2 separate regions of the Homo sapiens genome follow, and region 1 is linked to region 2. The links come from fine-mapping of genetic effects on gene expression. Tissue or cell type: blood mononuclear cells. Region 2 holds a variant in brackets; the other region holds the start of a gene. All regions are shown on one strand. Distances are from middle to middle.

Region 1 (5,157 bases), 69 kb before region 2:
TCTTTACAATAGTCAATTGTTTAGAATAAAGACACAAGTACTAGTCACAGTTGATGAGAGGGCATTATACACATTATACAGGGCCATAAATACCAGGAGGCAGGGATCACAGGGGAACAATTTGCCATCTGCCCACCTCTTATCCAATAAACCATGAGCTCCCTGAGAGCAACTCATATCCTTGGTAGCTTTTGAAAACCTGAGGAAGTAAAAATAGTGCCAGGAAACCATGGACGAACACCTTTCCAGTTAGGGAAGATGGATTCTGAAAAGTGCTTGCTACAAAGCATGACGTCAAATCTGTAAATGTTTTAGGATAATGCTTAAGGCAAGTTTAAGGGAGCATGAAGCCCTGCTTTGGATTTACTAAGAATAAAATTGGCACACTCTCTTTCACTAACAAATTTCCTAGACTGCTAAATTAGGGAAGTGACAGAGAAATGTCTCTTACTTGGGTAAACCATTTAGTGCAAAATACAGGTTAATATTGCAAACATGTTAGACAAATTTTTAATCTAGTGAATGATGAGCTTCAGGCTATTACCATTAATAGACATGCTTTTTTTGTGACTTGACACAGAACTTAACCCCATCTCTGTAGGGTTCTACAGTTTTACCAGTGTAATATAAATAGTATACTTGCCAGATTTATAACTGATACAATGTTGTGATAATTATAAACTACAGGGAATCAGAATCAGGCAGAATTCGGACCTTGAGCAGCCAGAGCTATGGGTTCAAAATAAGATAAATGACAACGTCATGTTTCAGGATTGCCTCTAAGATACCAATGGCACAAATACATGTTGGAGAAAGCACCGCATAATAAAAACACCAAAGAAAATACCACTTAAGCATCTTATCTAGCAGAAGCTCCTTATTAGTGGAGAGTGTAATTTCAATGATGTGATTTTTTTTGACCTGCTTCATAGAAGCTAAGAGAATAAGAGGCACACAGAGAAGGCTGGTCAACCTCACCCAGGGAGGTTATAGAAGAAGTCATCTTCTCTTTTTATAGTATTTCATAATGTGATAATTAAATCTATTACTTAAAATTTGAAAAAAATAAAAAAAAAGATGAAGAGGTGTTTTTAGCAATAACTGGTTACCCTGCTGATTATTTCAAAGTCTGTTATGTTATGTTATTTTATTTTATTTTTTTGAGAAGGAGTCTTGCTCTGTCACCCAGGCTGGAGTGCAGTGGTGCAATCTTGGCTCACTGCAAGCTCCGCCTCCCGGGTTCATGCCATTCTCCTGCCTCAGCCTCTTGAGTAGCTGCGATTACAGGTGCCCACCACCACGCCCGGCTAATTTTTTGTATTTTTAGTGGAGACAGGGTTTCACCGTGTTAGCCAGGATGGTCTCGACCTCCTGACCTCATGATCCGCCCACCTCAGCCTCCCAAAGTGCTGGGATTACAGGCATGAGGCACTGCACCCTGCCCAAAGTCAGTTATTTCGAACCATTTAAGGTATTAACCTTGGTCCAGACCTGTTGTCCTCACCTACAGAGGATGAAAGTGTCCAAAGTGAATTATGCAGAAGGCCATTTAGGCTGAGCCTCTTGGCATCTGAATTGGAAGCCATTTTTAATTTTCATTTTTCTCATGGTTGCTGTGTGTGTGTTTATGTTTGCAAAAGCAATTTAGGCCCTGGAATTCCAAGCTGTTCTGTTAAGACCCAGGCTGCTTTGCTATCTCCTATCTTTGTTCAAAACAAACAAACAAAAAACAACAATAAAAAGAAGGAGTCATAAAGGATGTTAGACTGTAGGAGGTGCTTTTAGGATAAGTAAAAGATAAGAAACCCGCTGGAGACCAGGAGGGAGTTAAGCAGGCTGTTCTAAAAAGAGACAATGGCTGGAACAAAGGCAAGAGCATAGAAATGTATCCATGATCTCAGACAAGTTTTTTCTGCAAAACATTCAAGGAAACAAGTCAGAGAAAATGGAGTGTGGCTTGACACAGGAGGGAAATATACTGGGAATAGGGGTGGGTGTTCTTAAGAAATTTCATTACATGCATGGCTGGCACTAGGCCTCAAGCGTTATTCAAGGAATTCTAATAAGCTGTTTTAAAGGGATTAACAATCAAATATAAGTGAGAAAGTTAACTTCAGTTCTGTAGTAGAATTAGTGTTTTGAAATGACCACCCTAATAATAACTTTGCCTCTTGTAAAGGAAGTCTAGTGTACTTATCAAGGACAAATTGGTGTGGTTCATTTTTCAACTAAGGAATCAAGTGTGAACAACACGGAGGAGAAAATCAAAGTCCTCTGGCATTCACAGCATTTCTGAGTGAGTTTTCTGTAAAATACTCCCACAGAGACATAAGAATCAGAGAAAAGGCACTGGACTGATTCCAGTTTCATTTTGAAATCATTGGCAGCTGTCATCTCCATCCCGCCCATCCTGCATTTGGTGCAAATAAAGAACGCAGGAGCCTTGTCTCCTACTGGGCTGTCAGTGAGGAAAAGGAGGAAAGACAGGTTAGCTGGGGATGATGACGGATCTGAAGCAAAGCCATTCAGTGAGGCTGAATGATGGACCCTTCATGCCAGTGCTGGGATTTGGCACTTATGCTCCTGATCATGTAAGTGGACCCCAGGAGGCTGAAGTTTCTTAGGTCAGCTGTACTTGCAGGGCAGTCATCAGGCAAGAGCCCTGCACTTGGGTAGACAGTGGATGCTTGGAAGGGCTCATCTGGGATTTCATTTAACTGTCTCTAACTTGCTCCTCTCAAGGTCACAGAGATCTTTTTTGCTTTAAGTGGCATGGCAAGTTATTGATTGTGGGGATTCTGAGATTGATAATTTTGTGGGTATATTATCTTTATTTCTATTAAAAGTATCAATGTTACCTAATATATCAAATGCTTTCCATGTATTTTAGGTGTTTTACATGCATTATCTTATTTAATTCCTTAACAACTGGCCTAGGTAAGTACTCATTAAAATTTGTTACGTTTTAAAAATGCAAGCTCAGACTGTTCTCATCTTTTGCTCTGGTCAGAGCCACTCTACTCTTGGTTAGAAATGTGAAGGGCCAAGGACCCAGGAGGAATCAAAAGCCAAAATGAATACTTAGTGGCAGCTTTGCTGTGAGGTTATTGGGGCTGGAAGTATTTGCCAGAGAGTTTCAACCATCCAAACTTTTTGCTATATAAGAAGCCACTGCGATTCTGTTACAGTCTCATCAATGTATTAAAAATATAGTAGTCTTTCATTTTGAGGGATTATCTGAAGTTTTTTGTCTTATGACTGAGAAAATTAAGGACTGTGGACACAAAGGGTAAGGTTGGAGTGAAAGTTTAATAAGTGAAAGAAGGAAGATTTTCTCGAGTAGAGAGGGGGCCTGGATGGATTGTTAACTATGAGGTCAGGTCTAGGGTTTTGATGGACTGGGAAAGAAAAGAATTTGTTGACTGGTCTTGGAGAAAGTGTAACTCAGCTTGTCCTGGGACCTTGGTCTGGGACCAATCAGGAGTTGAAGTGATAGCTTGGCCTGGGACCTTGGCCCAGGAGCAGTCAGATGCTGAATGATAATTCATAAAGGCTCATCTCACGGTCCACATGTCCACAAAAGGAAAGGAAAGTGCCCACCAGAGCCCACTGGAGCCCACCATATACATGCCCACAAAAGAAAAAGAGACTTTCCTAGAAGTCTGTTGGTTACACAAAAGACAAATGTGTTTCTCTGTTGGTTCTTGTTCTCATATGAGTGCAGTTGTTGCCATGTCTTAGGCATAAAGGACAAAGGCATTTTGATGTTGGGCCTTGTTTTTTTATCTGAGTGAGCTGGAGGTTTGTGTAAGTTTCCTTATCTGTGTGTGTAGTCTGATTTTTTTCAAGCTGTTTCTCTGTTTAAAGGAGTTTTACCAAGAACTCACTCTAACTGTTTAAGTTTTTTCTCTCATTTTTACCCTCAGGAGTGGAGTCCCTAATTGTCAGGGAGATTGGGTGTTGACTTTTCTGGCTATTTTTTTGTCGGATGGTGGTGTCATGTGGGGAACAGTAGTTAGAGTTCTTCCTGGGGTTGGTTTAATGATCTTTGGAAGAAAGATATGTTTATGTGTGGTGTTATTAGTATTACCATTTAGAGTTTGATAGTTTTTATGTGAGAAGAAATAATTTGGGCTATTAGAGTACATGTATTAAAATGAAATAAGGGGGGATAAGGATAGTTTAAAAATTCTGAGGTTGTTGATACGTCCTGATAATTGGTAGTTATAGTTATGTCTGTTACGATTTCGGTGTATGGAGCTTGGTTTTGCTTAGTTTTTTTGGTCTTCTTTTCTCAAATAAAGCAACCTCTGGATTATGGGTATTCTATATATTCCTATGACCTGGTAGGATTTGTAGGATAATTGTTCAGAACTAGAATATTGTTCTAAATTTTATATTATTTATCTTTTACTGTTTTTATTTTTTGTTGTAGTCAGAGATTGTTGGTTAGTTCATAAGAATAAGTAGGGTTAGTCTAAAATGTAGGTAAACATTTAAAAATAATTAGTGAGACTAGAATTTAATAACAAATGTATGGCAAGTTTGACACACTATTTTTCTCTCTAGTTCTTATTTTTGTCAAAAACAAGTCATGATAGGATAGTACTGAGTTGTTTGTAAAATAAATTTTAGTTTCATATTTGGTCTGATTATCTGTATAAAGAATAGTAAGAATAATTTTTTTTTTTTTTGAGACAGAGTCTGCTCTCCTGCCCAGGCTGGAGTGCAATGGCATGATCTCGGCTCACTACAACCTCCGCCTCCTGGGTTCAAGCAGTTCTCCTACCTCAGCCTCTTGAGTAGCTGGGACTACAGGTGCATGCTGCCACACCCAGCTTATTTTTTGTATTTTCGTAGAGACAGGGTTTCACTATGTTGCCCAGGCTGGTCTCGAACTCCTGAGCTCAGGCAATCTGCCTGCCTCGGCCTCCCAAAGTGCTAGGATTACAGGCATAAGCCACCACACCTGGCCTTACAATAATTATTTTATATAGGGTTTTTAAATTGGTTTTGATGGAATTCTATTCCATAAGTAACCTCAGATAATAATACCTCAGTTTAAAGTTGAGTCTAGTCATGGGTTTGTACTCTCAAATATTTATGAGTTGGGTCAATTTTTCTCTTTTTGAGGTCCCAAGAATATAGGGTTCTTGA
Region 2 (5,157 bases):
TATCTCCCTCCAGTCAAATGGCAGCTATAGGGGCCAAGGGAAAACTTCCCCTTTGCTCTCTGATGTTTCACTAAAAATCAATTGATGATTGGCAGATTAATAAGAGAACCAACATACAACTCTATTAATGCCAGGACTCAGCAAACAATGCCCCAAATAAAGGCTTCAGAAGCAAAAGTTTTTCTATGAGCTTCTCTCGCCCTCTTATATGTCAATCCTCTTTTCCTCTAAACTAGTTACAGAAACTAGAATCTTTCTTCCCCAAGGTAGGTCATAGGAACCAGAATCCATTTTTCCCAAAGCCAGCCATAAAAACTAAAGATACTACTCTAACTTTCCCTCCACCTTTCTGTGTAAATTATGGCCATAACAATAATTATCTGACCTATCTTGTTTGACTCTAGGTCATAAGACTCCCATTTCACAGAAGGCCCTGCCCCACAGCCAGAAGGAAGGAATGCTACTTAGGCCAAGAAGAATCTAGACACATAGGTTGTACAAGACATAAAGTCAACAGAAATTACCTTGAAACTTTAAGTTTAATGTCTGCTTTGCTGGAATTCTGATTTCCATGAGTCCTGTTTCCCCTGTCCCTACCCCTGCCTTTTTTTGGTTAACTTCCCTTTTGAAAAAGGAATGTTTACCCACAATGGATAACATGGTTGTACTTTGGAAGTAAATAACTTATTTTTGACTTCATAGGCTCATAACTGGCAGGAAGTTGCCTTGAGTCTGATATGAATTTTTATACTTTGGAATTTTAAGTTGGTGCTAGACCAAGTCACAACTTTTGGGAACTATTGGGATGAAATGGCTACATTTTGCGTGTAAGAAGAACATGAGGTTATGGATCAGGGGCAGAATGCTATGGTTGGCATATTTGACCCTCCTAACCATATGCTGAATTTTCGATGTAGGAGGTGAGGCCTAGTGAAGTCATTATGGTCATGGGGGCAGATCTCTCATGAATGGCTTGGTGCTCTCCCTGCAGTAACAAGTGAATTCTGGCTTTATTACTTTTTTCATAGCTGCTTGTTAAAAAGAGCCTGGCACCTTACTTTCCTCTCTTGCTTTCCTCTCTCACTCTGTGAACTCGGAACATGCTGGTTCTCCTTTCCTTTCTGCCATGAGTGGAAGCAGCCTGAAGACCTCACCAAAGGCCTAAGAGATGCCAATGCTATGCTTCTTGTACAGCCACCAGACTGTGAGCCAACAAACCTCTTCTTTATAAATTCTCAGCTTCAGGTATTCCTTTATAGCAACACAATGGACTAAGACAGTTTCTAATTTCTCTACACACCTAGAACCAGCATGTCCTGAGTGGGTGATCTTAATACCTGATAATCACAGACATACCATTTGTGACAAAGTTTTCCAAATTGGAGACAATCTGGAGGGTATCAATCCTACCCCAGGTCCTGGCTTGCTTCAGAAATCCTCGATTGAGGGTGGATATGTTTCTTCCCATATCTCCATGAACCAGTATCTCCTATAGTTGAAGACCACCCTGGAGCCAAATGTACAAATAGGTCTTGTTATCTGAGGGCAGCTCAAGTCCGCTACCTCATTGTTTGCTCCTGAATCCTCATTTTGGCTCAGGAAACTAACATTTAAAAGTGGTTAAGCGGTGAATTAAATGTGGCTATTTTGTAGACTCATGTTTAGGAAGCACCTTTTAACCCTTTTCCTGTTTAAAAAAAAAAAAAAGCTCACTGCCAGTGCTCATTTAATTTTACATAAACACACTTTTTGAGGCTGAAGAAAATCTGACTTATTTTCAATGTAAAAATGTAAAAACTGTTCTTAGAGTTATTTCTAAAGAGAACTAACATCAGAATTCTACGAATCATCACAATCATCTATTTTGGAGAGATTGGATTCATCAAATGAATCTTCGGCCAACAAGTGTGGGAAAATGATGTTAACATCACACATACGAATGCTACGCTTTCCAGGATTTAACATTTCCAGTGATCAAGAATTACTGTATTTTGTAAGTCATTCACAGATGGTTCTGCATGATACGCAGGGGCCACCCAAAAGCAGACAGCTGCAGCACTACAGCCCCTTTGATGTCCTACATCCCTGAAGGACAGCAATGAAGGGAAATCTTCCCAGTGGGCAGAACTTCAAGCAGTGCACCTGGTTGTGCACTTTGCATGGAAGGAGAAATGACCAGATGTGTGATTATATAGTGATTCATGGCCTGTAGCCAATATTTTGGCTGGGTGGTCAGGGACTTGGAAGAAGCATGATTAGAAAGTTGGTGACAGTGCTTTGCAGGGATGGGGCAAAGTTCTCCAGAAGGCTGTGTATGCCCTGAATCAGCATCCAATGTATTAGTACTCTTTCTCTCATAGCCAGGATTCACGGTCCAGGAATCAAGGGGTGGAAGTGGAAGTGGCACCACTCAGCATAACTCCTAGTGATCCACTAACAAAATTTTTGCTTCCTATTCCCGTGACTTCACCTTCTGCTGGCCTAGAGATCTTAGTTCTAGAGGGAAGAACGCTGCCAC[C/T]GGGAGACACAATGACAATTCCATTAAACTGAAAGACAGTCATCTGGACACTTTGGGTTCCTCCTACCTTTAAGTCAACAGGGTAAGAAGGGAGGTACAGTGTTGGCTGGGGTGATTGACCCGGGCTATCAAGATGAAATCAGTCTACTACTTCACAACAGAGGTAAGGAAGAGTATGCATTAGGGCGTCGCTTAGTATTACCATGCTGTGTGATTAAGGTCAATGGGAAACTACAACAGCCCAATCCAGCAGGACTACAAGTGACCCAGATCCTTCAAAAATGAAGGTTTGGGTCACTCCACCAGGAAAAAAACATGACCTGCTGAGGTGCTTGTATATCAGGTATACATAGGTATGCATACTGGGTAGTAGAAGAAGGTAGTCATCAATACTGGCTATGACCATGTGACCAACTGCAGAAAAGAGGACGGTAATTGTCATGAGTATTTCCTCCTTTTGTTAAAACCATATTTGTGCATGTATATACTTGTACTAAAAAAAATCTTCATTTTATTTTCTTTATCATGTGACATAAGATTTATTGACTTCACATCAGCATTTAAGTATTGTTTACTTTATGTAATAGTATTTGGGGTGAGGATTGGTGCGTTTCCAGTTGTAGGAAGGATAGTTGTATTAGGCATAATTATGACCTTATTATTGTATTTATTTGAATACTATGTATGATCTCAGGAGATGTGTATGGGTTCAAGTTAACAAAGGGTAGACTTGGGATGGTTAATTCTGAGTGTCAACTTCACTGGATTGAAGAATACAATGTTGATCCTGGGTGTGTTTCTGAGGGTGTGGCCAAAAGAGATTAACATTTGAGTCAGTGGGCTAGAAAAGGCAGACCCACCCTTAATCTGGGTGGGCAGAATCTAATCAGCTGTCAGCATGGCTAGAATATAAGCAGGCAGAAAAACATGAAAGGAGAGACTGGCCTAGCCTCACAGTCTATATCTTTCTCCTGTGCTAGATGCTTCCTTCCCTTGAACATCATACTCCAAATTCTTCAGTTTTGGAACTCGGGCTGGCTCTCTTTGCTCCTCAGCCTGCAGATGGCCTGTTGTGGGACCTTGTGATCACGTGAGTTCATACTTAGTAAACTCCCCTTTATATATATTTAAATATATATATATATATTCCACTAGTTCTGTCCCTCTGGAGAACGCTAATACACTATTCTGGATGCCACTAAGAACATTCGTGACTCATGAAAGGAGGGCAAAATATACACTTGAACAGGAGTTTGGAAGATGTTGATTCCAGCCCTCATAGATGGATGACTTTGAGGAATTCAGGACTTCAGTGGGGAAAGTAATTGCAGATTTGGTGAAAATAGCAAGAGAACTAGAATTAGATTGAAAACTGACTATTACTGAGTGGTTGCAGTCTCATATAATTTTCACAAATGAGAAGTTGCTCTTTATGGATGAACAAAGAAAGTGGTTTGGTGAAATGGATTTCACTTCTGATGAAGATGCTATGAAGAATGTTGAAATGAAAACAAAGGATTTAGAATATGACATAAAGATCGCTGATAAGATCATGACAAGGTTTGAGAGAATTATCTATATACTATGATGTTCGCACAATGAAAAAGTTACCTAACAAAGCCCTTCTCAAGAAGATAGCCAGGCATTACATGACACATGACTGTCATTAGTGACGGGAAAAGAGTTACTTTTGCCATTTTTAATGTTTTTCTCCATGTCTATAGCTTTTGTCCTTCATATCCGTCATTACTACTATTTTGTGAGATTGTGTAATTTTTTAAATGACATTTGGATTCCCTTCTCATTTCCTCTTGAGTGTATTCTACAGTTATTATCTTTGTAGTTGCTGTCTGGATGACATACAACTTCATAGAGTTATAACAATTTACATTGAATCAACATCAATTTAACTTCCATTTCATATAAAAACTAATTTTCCCAGGTTTTTTTCCCATTTCATATTATTTTTGTCACTCATTAGGACATTATATATTGTGTACATATTAACAAATAATTATACTTATTTCTGTGTTTTAAATTCTGAAGAAAAATAGAATACAAACCAAAAATTCAAAAATACATGTTTTCATATTTTGCCATATATTTATTTACATAGACTAGAAGTGTTTATAGCTCTATATGGCTTTGAGTTACTGTCTACTTCCTTCTATTCAACTGAAGTATTACCTCCAGCATTTCTTTTTTTTTAATTATTTATTATTATTATTTATTATTATTATACTTTAAGTTTTAGGGTACATGTGCACAATGTGCAGGTTAGTTACATATGTATACATGTGCCATGCTGGTGTGCTGCACCCACTAACTCGTCATCTAGCATTAGGTATATCTCCCAGTGCTATCCCTCCCCGCTCCCCCCACCCCACAACAGTCCCCAGAGTGTGATGCTCCCCTTCCTGTGTCCCTGTGTTCTCATTGTTCAATTCCCACCTATAAGTGAGAATATGCGATGTTTGGTTTTTTGTTCTTGCAATAGTTTACTGAGAGTGATGATTTCCAATTTCATCCATGTCCCTACAAAGGACATGAACTCATCATTTTTTATGGCTGCATAGTATTCCATGGTGTATACATGTGCCACATTTTCTTAATCCAGTCTATCATTGTTGGACATTTGG

What was found. PIP is the estimated chance that this variant, and not a neighbour inherited with it, causes the effect.
Region 1: it holds the start of AKR1C8, and the variant in region 2 is fine-mapped to the expression of AKR1C8 in blood mononuclear cells (TOPMed, PIP 0.96).

The regions. Positions count from the first base shown.
Region 1 is chr10:5,182,446-5,187,602 of GRCh38, reverse strand. It overlaps AKR1C8 (aldo-keto reductase family 1 member C8), which reads left to right and starts at 2,453. Exons shown (of 9, transcript NM_001395972.1): 1 at 2,453-2,591. The coding sequence starts at 2,499.
Region 2 is chr10:5,113,681-5,118,837 of GRCh38, reverse strand. It overlaps a transcript of AKR1C8 not described here. Among named protein-coding and RNA genes, the nearest start is that of AKR1C3, 22 kb to the right of the region's middle. The variant C/T (reference allele first, on the strand shown) is at 2,519.